Linked DNA regions of Homo sapiens: region 1 is linked to region 2. Evidence: fine-mapped expression QTL. A gene starts in region 2. The other region holds a variant in brackets. All regions are shown on one strand. Distances are from middle to middle.

Region 1 (4,385 bases), 25 kb after region 2:
GGTGATCTGCCTGCCTCAGCCTCCCAAAGTGCTAAGATTACAGGCCTGAGCCATTGTGCCCTGCCTGTACAATCTTTTTGTTTGTTTGTTTGAGACAGAGTCTCCCTCTGTTGCCCAGGCTAGAGTGCAGTGGTGTGATCTTGGCTCACTGCAACCTCCACCTCCCAGGTTCAAGCAATTCTCTGCCTCAGCCTCCCCAGCAGCTGGGATTACAGGTGCCTGCCACCACGCCCAGCTAATTTTTGTGTTTTTAGTAGAGACGGGTCTCACCATCTTGGCCAGGCTGGTCTTGAACTCCTGACCTCAGGTGATCTGACTGCCTCAGCCTCCCAAAGTGCAGGGATTACAGGCGTGAGACACTGCACCAGCCTGGAATCTTTTAAAGTGAACAATATGAACCTTCTTTGAGTAGGCAGTTCCATTTCTGGCTGTCTGTTCTAAGAGGTATTTGCCCACATTCATAAGGAAACACCCACGAGGAGGTTTGTCGTGACACTGTGTTTAGCAGCAACATTATGGGGAACGAACCCAATGTCCCCAGTAGGTGAAGGCTGAACTCTGGCATAAATAATGGAATTCCAGCCGGGTGTGGTGGCTCAGGCCTGGAATCCCAGCTACTTGGGAGGCTGAGGTGGGAGGATCACTTGAGCCCGGGAGATTGAGGCTGCAGTGAGGTGTAACTGTACCACTGCACTCCAGCCTTGGTGAGAGACCAAGATCCTGCCTGAAAAAGGGGGAGGGGGGTGGGGAGCTAGGCCCAGGACAGGAACTGTGGCATGTTCCTGTAATCCCAGGACTTTGGGGGGCTGAGGCAGGAGGGTTGGTTGAAGACAGGAGGTCGAGTCCAGACTGGGCAACATGGCCAGACCGTTTCTCAATTTGTCTTTTTTTAAAGAAAGGTGGGGCACGGTGGCTCACGCATGTAATCCCAGCACTTTGGGAGGCCACGGCGGGCAGATCACCTGAGGTCAGGAGTTCAAGACCAGCCTGGCCAACATGGTGAGACTCCCACCACCCCCACTAAAAATAAAAAAATTAGTCAGATGTGGTGGCGGGCACCTGTAATCCCAGCTAATTGGTAGGCTGAGGCAGGAGGATCACTTGAACCTGGAAGGTGGAGGTTGCAGTGAGCTGAGATCATGCCACTGCACTCCAGCCTGGGCAACAGAGTGAGATTCCATCTCAAAAAATAATTAATTAAAAAAAAAGATGCTACAATTTGCCTTCAAAGGGGCTGCGCTCTACATACTCAACAAGGATGGGACTCACTGGCTTTATGAGTAGAAAGCTCTGGCTGGGAAGTTCCCCTCCTCGGCGGGGGCAGCAGAAGGAGTTGGCAGAGGGAAGGAAGGAACCTGTGTTTATCAAATGTTCCCTGAGCATTTGGCAGAAACAAAGTTGAACTCCCACTTCCAACACCCGTTCTTATTTTAATTTTAATTTTTTTTTTTTTTGAGACAGCATCTCACTCTATCACCCCCGCTGGAGTGCAGTGGCAGGATCTCGGCTCACTGCAACCTCCGCCTCCCGGGTTCAAGCGATTCTCCTGCCTCAGCCTCCAGAGTAGCTGGGATGACAGGCACGCGCCACCCTGCCTGGCTTAATTTTTGTATTTTTAGTAGAGATGGGGTTTTGCCATGTTGCCAGGCTGGTCTCGAACTCCTGACCTCAAGTGATTCGCCCGCCTCAGCTCCCAAACTGCTGGGATTACAGGCGTGAGCTACCGCACCCGGCCCCCAAAAAACTTTTATGTATTATATATTTTTACAATAACATATAAATAATGTATACCGAAGGTGGTGAAAATAAAGCAGGTGAGT[G/A]TGTTCTAAGGAGATGCAGAGGGGATGCCTTGGGAACGTGTTTATTGCCCATCTCTCCCTCTGTTTGTTTTCTGGTGCTGCATAACAAATTATACCAAAACTGAACAACTTAAAAACAACATAGAGCTGGGTGTGGTTTCATTGGGTCTCCCGCTTTAAGGTTTAGCAAGAATGCAATCAAGACAGAGGCCAGGCTGGGCGCAGTGGCTCATGGCTGTAATCCCACCACTTTCACAGGCCGAGGCGGGCGGATCACTTGAGGTCATGAGTTCAAGACCAGCCTGGCCAACATGGCAAAACCCTGTCACTACAAAAAAGTACAAAAATTAGTTGGGCATGGTGGTACATGCCTGTAATTCCAGCTACTTGGGAGGCTGAGACAGGAGAATCACTTGAACCCAGGAGGCAGAGGTTGCAGTGAGCCAAGATTGCACCACTGCACTCCAGCCAGGGGGACAGAGCGAGACTCCCGTCTCAAAGAAAAAAAAAAAAAAAAGACACAGGCCCAGGCTGGGGTGTCATCTGAAGGCTCAACTGGGGAAGGACCTGCTGCCAAACCTTTGTGGTTGTTGACAGAATTCAGTCCCTCATGGCTGTTGGCCAGAAAACACTCTCAGTTTCTTACCTACACAGACCTTGTCTGCAGCTTGTGTCTTTGTCCATTTGCTGCTGCTTTCACAGAACACCACAGACTGGGTAAATTATAAACAGTAGAAGTTTATTCGGGCCGGGCGCAGCGGTTCACACCTGTAATCCCAGCACTTTCAGAGGCTGAGGTAGGTGTATCACCTGAGGTCAGGAGTTTGAGACCAGCCTGCCCAACATGGTGAAACTCTGTCTCTACTAAAAATACAAAAATTAGCCGGGCATGGGGCAGGTGCCTGTAATCCCAGCTACTCCAGAGGCCGAGGCAGGAGAATAACTTGAACCCGGGAGGCAGAGGTTGCAGTGAGCCAAGATTATGCCATTGCACTCCATCCAGCTTGGACAACAGAGTGAGACTCCATCTCAAAAAAATTGGTGCACCCCAGCACCCCAAAACCAGCTGGCACATCGTGGGTGCTCGCAAATGGGTTGAGGGGGCATCACCCCATTCCCCAATGAGGAAACAGGCTCAGGGAGCCCCAGGTTTCACCTCCTCCCCTCTCACACCCCACTCTTTCATACACCACTGGAATTTTATTTTTATTTCTTTTTTTTTTCCCCTGAGAAGCTTTGTTCTCTCACCCTGTGTCCTGGGGGCAATTCTGCTCTCAGCCCCCAGTTCTCTCCTGGGGGTTCCCAGGACTGAGGGAGTAGAGGGGCAGGCACAGCCATGCATCGGGCTCTGTCCCTCCTGACCAGCGGGGGACCCCTCCCTGCCCTGCCCCACCTCTCAGGGCCCCCTACCCTCACCCTCTGAAGCCTGCCCTTCCCCTATCCCTGCCGACAGTACCCGTTCCCCACCAGCCCGCGTCTGTCATCCTGTCTTCGGGAGCTGTCAGCCTTCATCTGAGATCTCCATCAACTCCTCCGGGGCTGCCTGGCTGCTGGAGCACATCAGAGGGATGGGGAGGAGGGGCGATGGGGGCCCCTTCTGCTGGAGCCCACTGCCGCCCCAGCCTGGGCTTACAGGAGAAGAGGGGCCATGCCATTTCCCCAGCTTTTGCCAGTTCCAGTGTGAACTTGGGGCTCCCTGAGCCTGTTTCCTTATCTGGGAATGGGGTGACACCACCCACTCAGTCCACAAACACCCCCCGGGCACACGCTCTGTTGCTGCCCCATTTACAGGTAAGGGAGACTCCTCGACCTCCAGGGTGAGGGAGGGACAGGGCCTGGGTATGAAGCTCCAGGCTCCGAGGCTACGCCTTTGGTCACCCACCCCACTGCAACCCCAAGAGCTGGGCTGTGCCTGCGTGTCAGACTGGAGCCCTGGAAGGGCTGGATCATGCCTCCCCCATCAGGTAGGGGCCCCTAGAAGGAAGGCTCGCTTCTCCTCCAGCAGACTGGGACCTTGTAAGTTAGTTAGGGCCATGCCTCCTGTGTTGGACTGGGCCCTTGAAATTTACACCATACCTCCCCCATCAGACTGGGGACGCTTGAAGTTTGGACTATGCCTCCCTCATCAGACTGGGGACTCTTGAAGGCAGGCCTATGTCTCCTCCATTACTCTGGGACCCTGGAAGTCAAGACTATGTCTCCTGCATTAGACAGGGGACCGTTGAAGGTTGAACCTGCCTCCCCCATCAGACTGAAGATAGGTTCACGTCTCCTTCCTCAGAGTGGGAACCCCTCAAGGTAGGGCCATATCTCTCCCATCAAATGGAAGCTCCTGAAGTCAGAGCCGCAACTCTTCCATCAGACTGGGGGCTTCTGTGGACAAGGCCATGCCTCTGCCATCAGACCGTGAGTTAAGAAAGGCAGAGCTGGCCAGGTGCAGTGGCTCACGCCTGTAATCCCAGCACTTTGGGAGGCCGAGGCGGGCGGATCACGAGATCAGGAGATCGAGACCATCCTGGCTAACACAATGAAGCCAAGATTGCGCCACTGCACTCCAGCTTGGACGACAGAGCGAAACTCTGTCTC
Region 2 (4,385 bases):
CTCTACAAAAACTGCCAAATATTAGCCAGGTGTGGTGGTACCTATAGTTCCAGCTAACTCGGAAGGCTGAGGTGGGGGATCGCCTGAGCCGGGAAGTGGAGGCCACAGAGAGCCATGATTGCGTTACTGCACTCCAGCCTAGGTGACAGAGCGAGACCCTGTCTCAAAAAGTATACATACATATCCTTGCCATTTTAGTGCCTAAGTACATTACACCATGACTATAACCATATTTTCTTTTTTTTTTTTTGAGATGGAGTTTCACTCTTGTCACCCAGGCTGGAGTGCAATGGCGCCATATCGACTCACCGCAACCTCTGCCTCCCAGGTTCAAGTGATTCTCCTGCCTCAGCCTCCCAAGCAGCTGGGATTACAGGCATGCACCACCATGCCCGGCTAATTTTGTATTTTTAGTAGAGACAAGATTTCTTCATGTTGGTCTGGTTGGTCTTGAACTCTCGACCTGCACCACCGCACCTGGCTAATTTTGCATTTTTAGTAGAGACGGGGTTTCTCCGTGTTGGTCTGATTGGTCTTGAACTCCTGACCTCAGGTGATTCGCCCACGTCGGCCTCCCAAAGTGCTGGGATTACAGGCGTAAGCCACCATGCCCGGTATCTTTTTCTTTTTTTTCTCTTTTTTTTTTTTTTTGAGATGGAGTCTCACTCTGTCGCCCAGGCCACAGGGCAGCGGCACAATCTCGATCTCAGTTCACTGCAACCTCAGCCTCCTGGGTTCATGCAATTCTCCTGCCTCAGCCTCCCAAGTAGCTGGGATTACAGGTTCCCGCCACCACGCCCGGCTAATTTTTGTATTTTTAGTAGAGATGGGGTTCCACCATGGTGGCCATGGTGACCAGGCTGGTCTCGAACTCCTGACCTCAGGTGATCCACCCTCCTTGGCCTCCCAAAGTGCTGGGATTACAGGCATGAGCCACCGCGCCTGGCGACTATAACGATCTTAAAAGCATACATTGCTATGCAATATCAGGACATCTGGACCTTCCATTGTTGTAGTAGTGTGTCCTCCTAGGCATTTGTAAGACGTTTTCTCAATTGTAAACATCTTATGACCCTGGCTCGTGACTGGCAGCGAATGTGCCTTGTTAATTTTAAGATGGAGTTGATTTTTGGCCAGGTGCAGTGGCTCATGCCTGTAATCCCAGCACTTTGGGAGGCAGAGGCGAGCAGATCACCTGAGGTCAGGAGTTCGAGACCTGCCTGGCCAAAATGGTGAAACCCCATCTCTACTAAAACTACAAAAATTAGGCAGGTGTGGTGGTGCGTGCCTGTAATCCCAGCTACTCGGGAGGTTGAGACAGGAGAATCACTTGAATCCTGAGGTGGAGGTTGCAGTGAGCCAAGATCGCACCACTGGAGGCAGAGGTTGCAGTGAGCCAAGATCGCACCACTGCCCGTCAGCCTGGGCAACAGAGCAAGACTCCTCAAAAGATAAATAAATAAACAAACAATTGCCACAGCAACATCAAGAAGTTACCCTATATGGTCTAAAAAAGGGAGGTATGAATAATCCACCCCTTGTTTAGCATATCATCAATAAATCACCATAAACATGGGCAACCACCAGCCCTTGGGGCTGCTTTGTCTGTGAAGTAGCCATTCTTTTATTCATCTACTTTCTAAATAAACTTGTTTTTGCTTTGCACTGTGGACTCGCCCTGAATTCCTTCTTGCACGAGATCCAAGAACCCTCTCCTGGGGTCTGGATCCGGACCCCTTTCCTGGAACAATCTGACACAGAGGAAACGTCCATGAAAGGTGGGGAGGAGGCTGGGGAAGGAGGCTGGGGAAGGAATGGGATGGGAAGTCCTCGTTAAGGGGAAGGCACAGGTGGGCAATGGAGGGACATTTGGGAGACACTGCGTATGTTTAGGAAGTTGGTTTGGAGCCTGATCTTTAAGTCAATGTCTGTGACTCAAGAGTCGTCCAGGGTCCTCTTAAGTCACCCTATGTGTGGCCCCAACCCCATGTGAGAGTTGCGGGCCCAGGAACGATGTGTGGATTCCCAGAGCCCAGAATACAAGGCAGGCGCATAATACATATTTGCTGAATAAAAGAATGAAGAACAAGAGGTCACGTTACAAAATTTTAACGAGCCGCTGCCCGCTTCTAGGGGGCGCAGCGCACTATACAAAATTCTCCAATTCCACATGGCTCCCGGAATCCTTATTTCGCGCTACTCAGGTTGCAACTCCGGAGGGAAGACGCTGGGACTTCCAGCTTGATAGGCGGGGATTGGAACCAATGAAAGAGGTCTGCTGTGTATGCTGCAGCCAATAATAGCGGCCGAAGGAAGTGACGTTTGCGGAAGTAAGGCTTCCGTCGGAAAAGCTCGATAATTACCCAGCCTAACCATTTCTCAGGTGCTTGCGAGGTGATCAGAAGGCAAAGATGTCGGAGCGAAAAGTATTAAACGTAAGTGTTGGGCGACTGGGGCTTTTCAATCGGAGCAGGACATCCCGGAACTCCGGGAGAGGGAGGAGCTTCCTGAGATCTCTTCTTTGGAACCCTTCTTTCCCAGCGGCCTTCCGCGAGATGGGGCTTCCCAGACTCCTCCCTAGACTCCTCCCCATCGCCTTCCGTCGGGGGGGTGGGCCTTCGCTAAGTCTCCCTTCTGGGCTGGGGTGTAGTTAGTCACCTGCGGGGCGTGGCTTGGGCTTTTACCCAATCACCACCAGATAGGGTTTTTTTTCTGGGGGCGGGGCTTCCTTAAATGCTGGCGGCCGTGTTTTGCCCTCTTCTTGAGGGGCGTGGCTCTGAGAAGCCCCGCCCCACTTGGGGACTGTAACCAATCGTGTACTTTGGGTGGGGTGGGGTGGGGTGGCGCGTGTGTGTGTGTGTGTGTGTGTGTGTGTGTGTGTGTGTGTGTGTGTGTGTGTGTGTGTGTGTGTGTGTGTGTGTGTGTGTGTGTGTGTGTGTGTGTGTGTGTGTGTGTGTGTGTGTTTTGTTTTTTTTACTGGGGTCTGGTCATGCAGATAACCTCTGCCTTACAGTGGCCAAGATTTTACTGGGGTCTGGTCATGCAGATAACCTCTGCCTGACAGTGGCCAAGATTCCAGACTCCCAGAAGAAAAGCAGAGGTTCAGTATAAACTATACTGTTGGCACACTTCTGTTTTTTGGTTTTTTGAGATGGAGTTTTGCGCTTGCTTCCCAGGCTGGAGTGCAGTGGCACGTTCTTGGCTCACTGCAGCTTCTGCCTCCTGGGTTCAAGCGATTCTCCTGCCTCAGCCTCCTGAGTAGCTGGGACTGCAGGCGCCCGCCACCATGCCTGGTTAATTTTTTTTGTATTTTAGTAGAGATGAGATTTCACCATGTTGCCCAGGGTGGTTTTGAACTCTTGATCTCAGGCATTCCACCCACCTCATACTCCCAAAGTGCTGGAATTACAGGCGTGAGCCACCGCGCCCGGCCCCACGCAGGTCTTTCTAGGAGAGCAGTCTCAGGCTTGCTGTAGGAACTCCTGGGAAACAGGAGCCCTGGGATACAAAGGGAGTGTGAGTATGGATTATGACAGATACCTCCACTGCACCACTGGAAAATAAAGCACTTTGTGTTTGGAGCACCTACTGGGTGCCAGACACTGCAAAGAGCACTTTATCCCCCTTGCCTCAAGGAATGCGTGCAAAGACTCTTGGAGACAGAGGACAGTGTGCGCATTTCACAGAGGAGTAAACTGAGCCCTGCAGGTTTCAGCTCCTCAGGATTCAGATCCAGGGAGATGACTCTGTAGGAAACGGATGTAGTATCGTGATTGGGAGGCTGAGCTAACAGAGTCCTGGTTTACCCTCTACAGAATTGCTGGGGAGTTGGGACTCCTCGGGGAACTCGGTCTCCTGCCTGAACAACAGAAGTGCTAAGCAAAGCTTAACCTCTACAAAGGGCAGGGCATGATGGCTCACGTGTGTAATACCAGCTCTTTGGGAGGCCAAGGCAGGTGGATCACCTGAGGTCAGGAGTTCGAGACTAGCCTGGCCAACATGGTGAAACCCCATCTCTACTAAAAATACAAAAATTAGCGGGGAGTGGTGGTGGGCGCCTGTAATCCCAGCTACTGTAGAGGCTGAGGCAGGAGAATCGCTTGAACCCAGGAGGCGGAGGTTGCAGTGAGCCAAGATCGCGCCACTGGACTCCAGCCTGGGCAACAAGAGCAAAACTCCGTCTCAGAACAAAAACAAAAACAAACCCTGGCTTTTTAGAGCTTCCCGTGTAGACAGCATTTCATGTGTATTGTCATGACTGGTATTTAGGAGAATTAAATGCGTCCTGTATAACTCCACTAGGAGAGAGTCAGGAAGCTTGTGCCTGGCCTCCCTCTGACTGTACTGAGTCCTGCGAGTCCTCCCTGCCTGTCGCGGAACCTGGG

What was found. PIP is the estimated chance that this variant, and not a neighbour inherited with it, causes the effect. A credible set is the group of variants that fine-mapping cannot tell apart.
Region 1: its variant is the best candidate, but not a certain one, in a credible set for the expression of YJU2 in whole blood (TOPMed, PIP 0.51).

What each region holds. Positions count from the first base shown.
Region 1 is chr19:4,269,805-4,274,189 of GRCh38, forward strand. No RefSeq gene overlaps it. Among named protein-coding and RNA genes, the nearest start is that of SHD, 7.3 kb to the right of the region's middle. The variant G/A (reference allele first, on the strand shown) is at 1,821.
Region 2 is chr19:4,244,736-4,249,120 of GRCh38, forward strand. It overlaps YJU2 (YJU2 splicing factor homolog), which reads left to right and starts at 2,345. Exons shown (of 8, transcript NM_018074.6): 1 at 2,345-2,435. The coding sequence starts at 2,412. RefSeq lists enhancers at 1,405-2,176, 1,935-2,074, 2,415-2,504.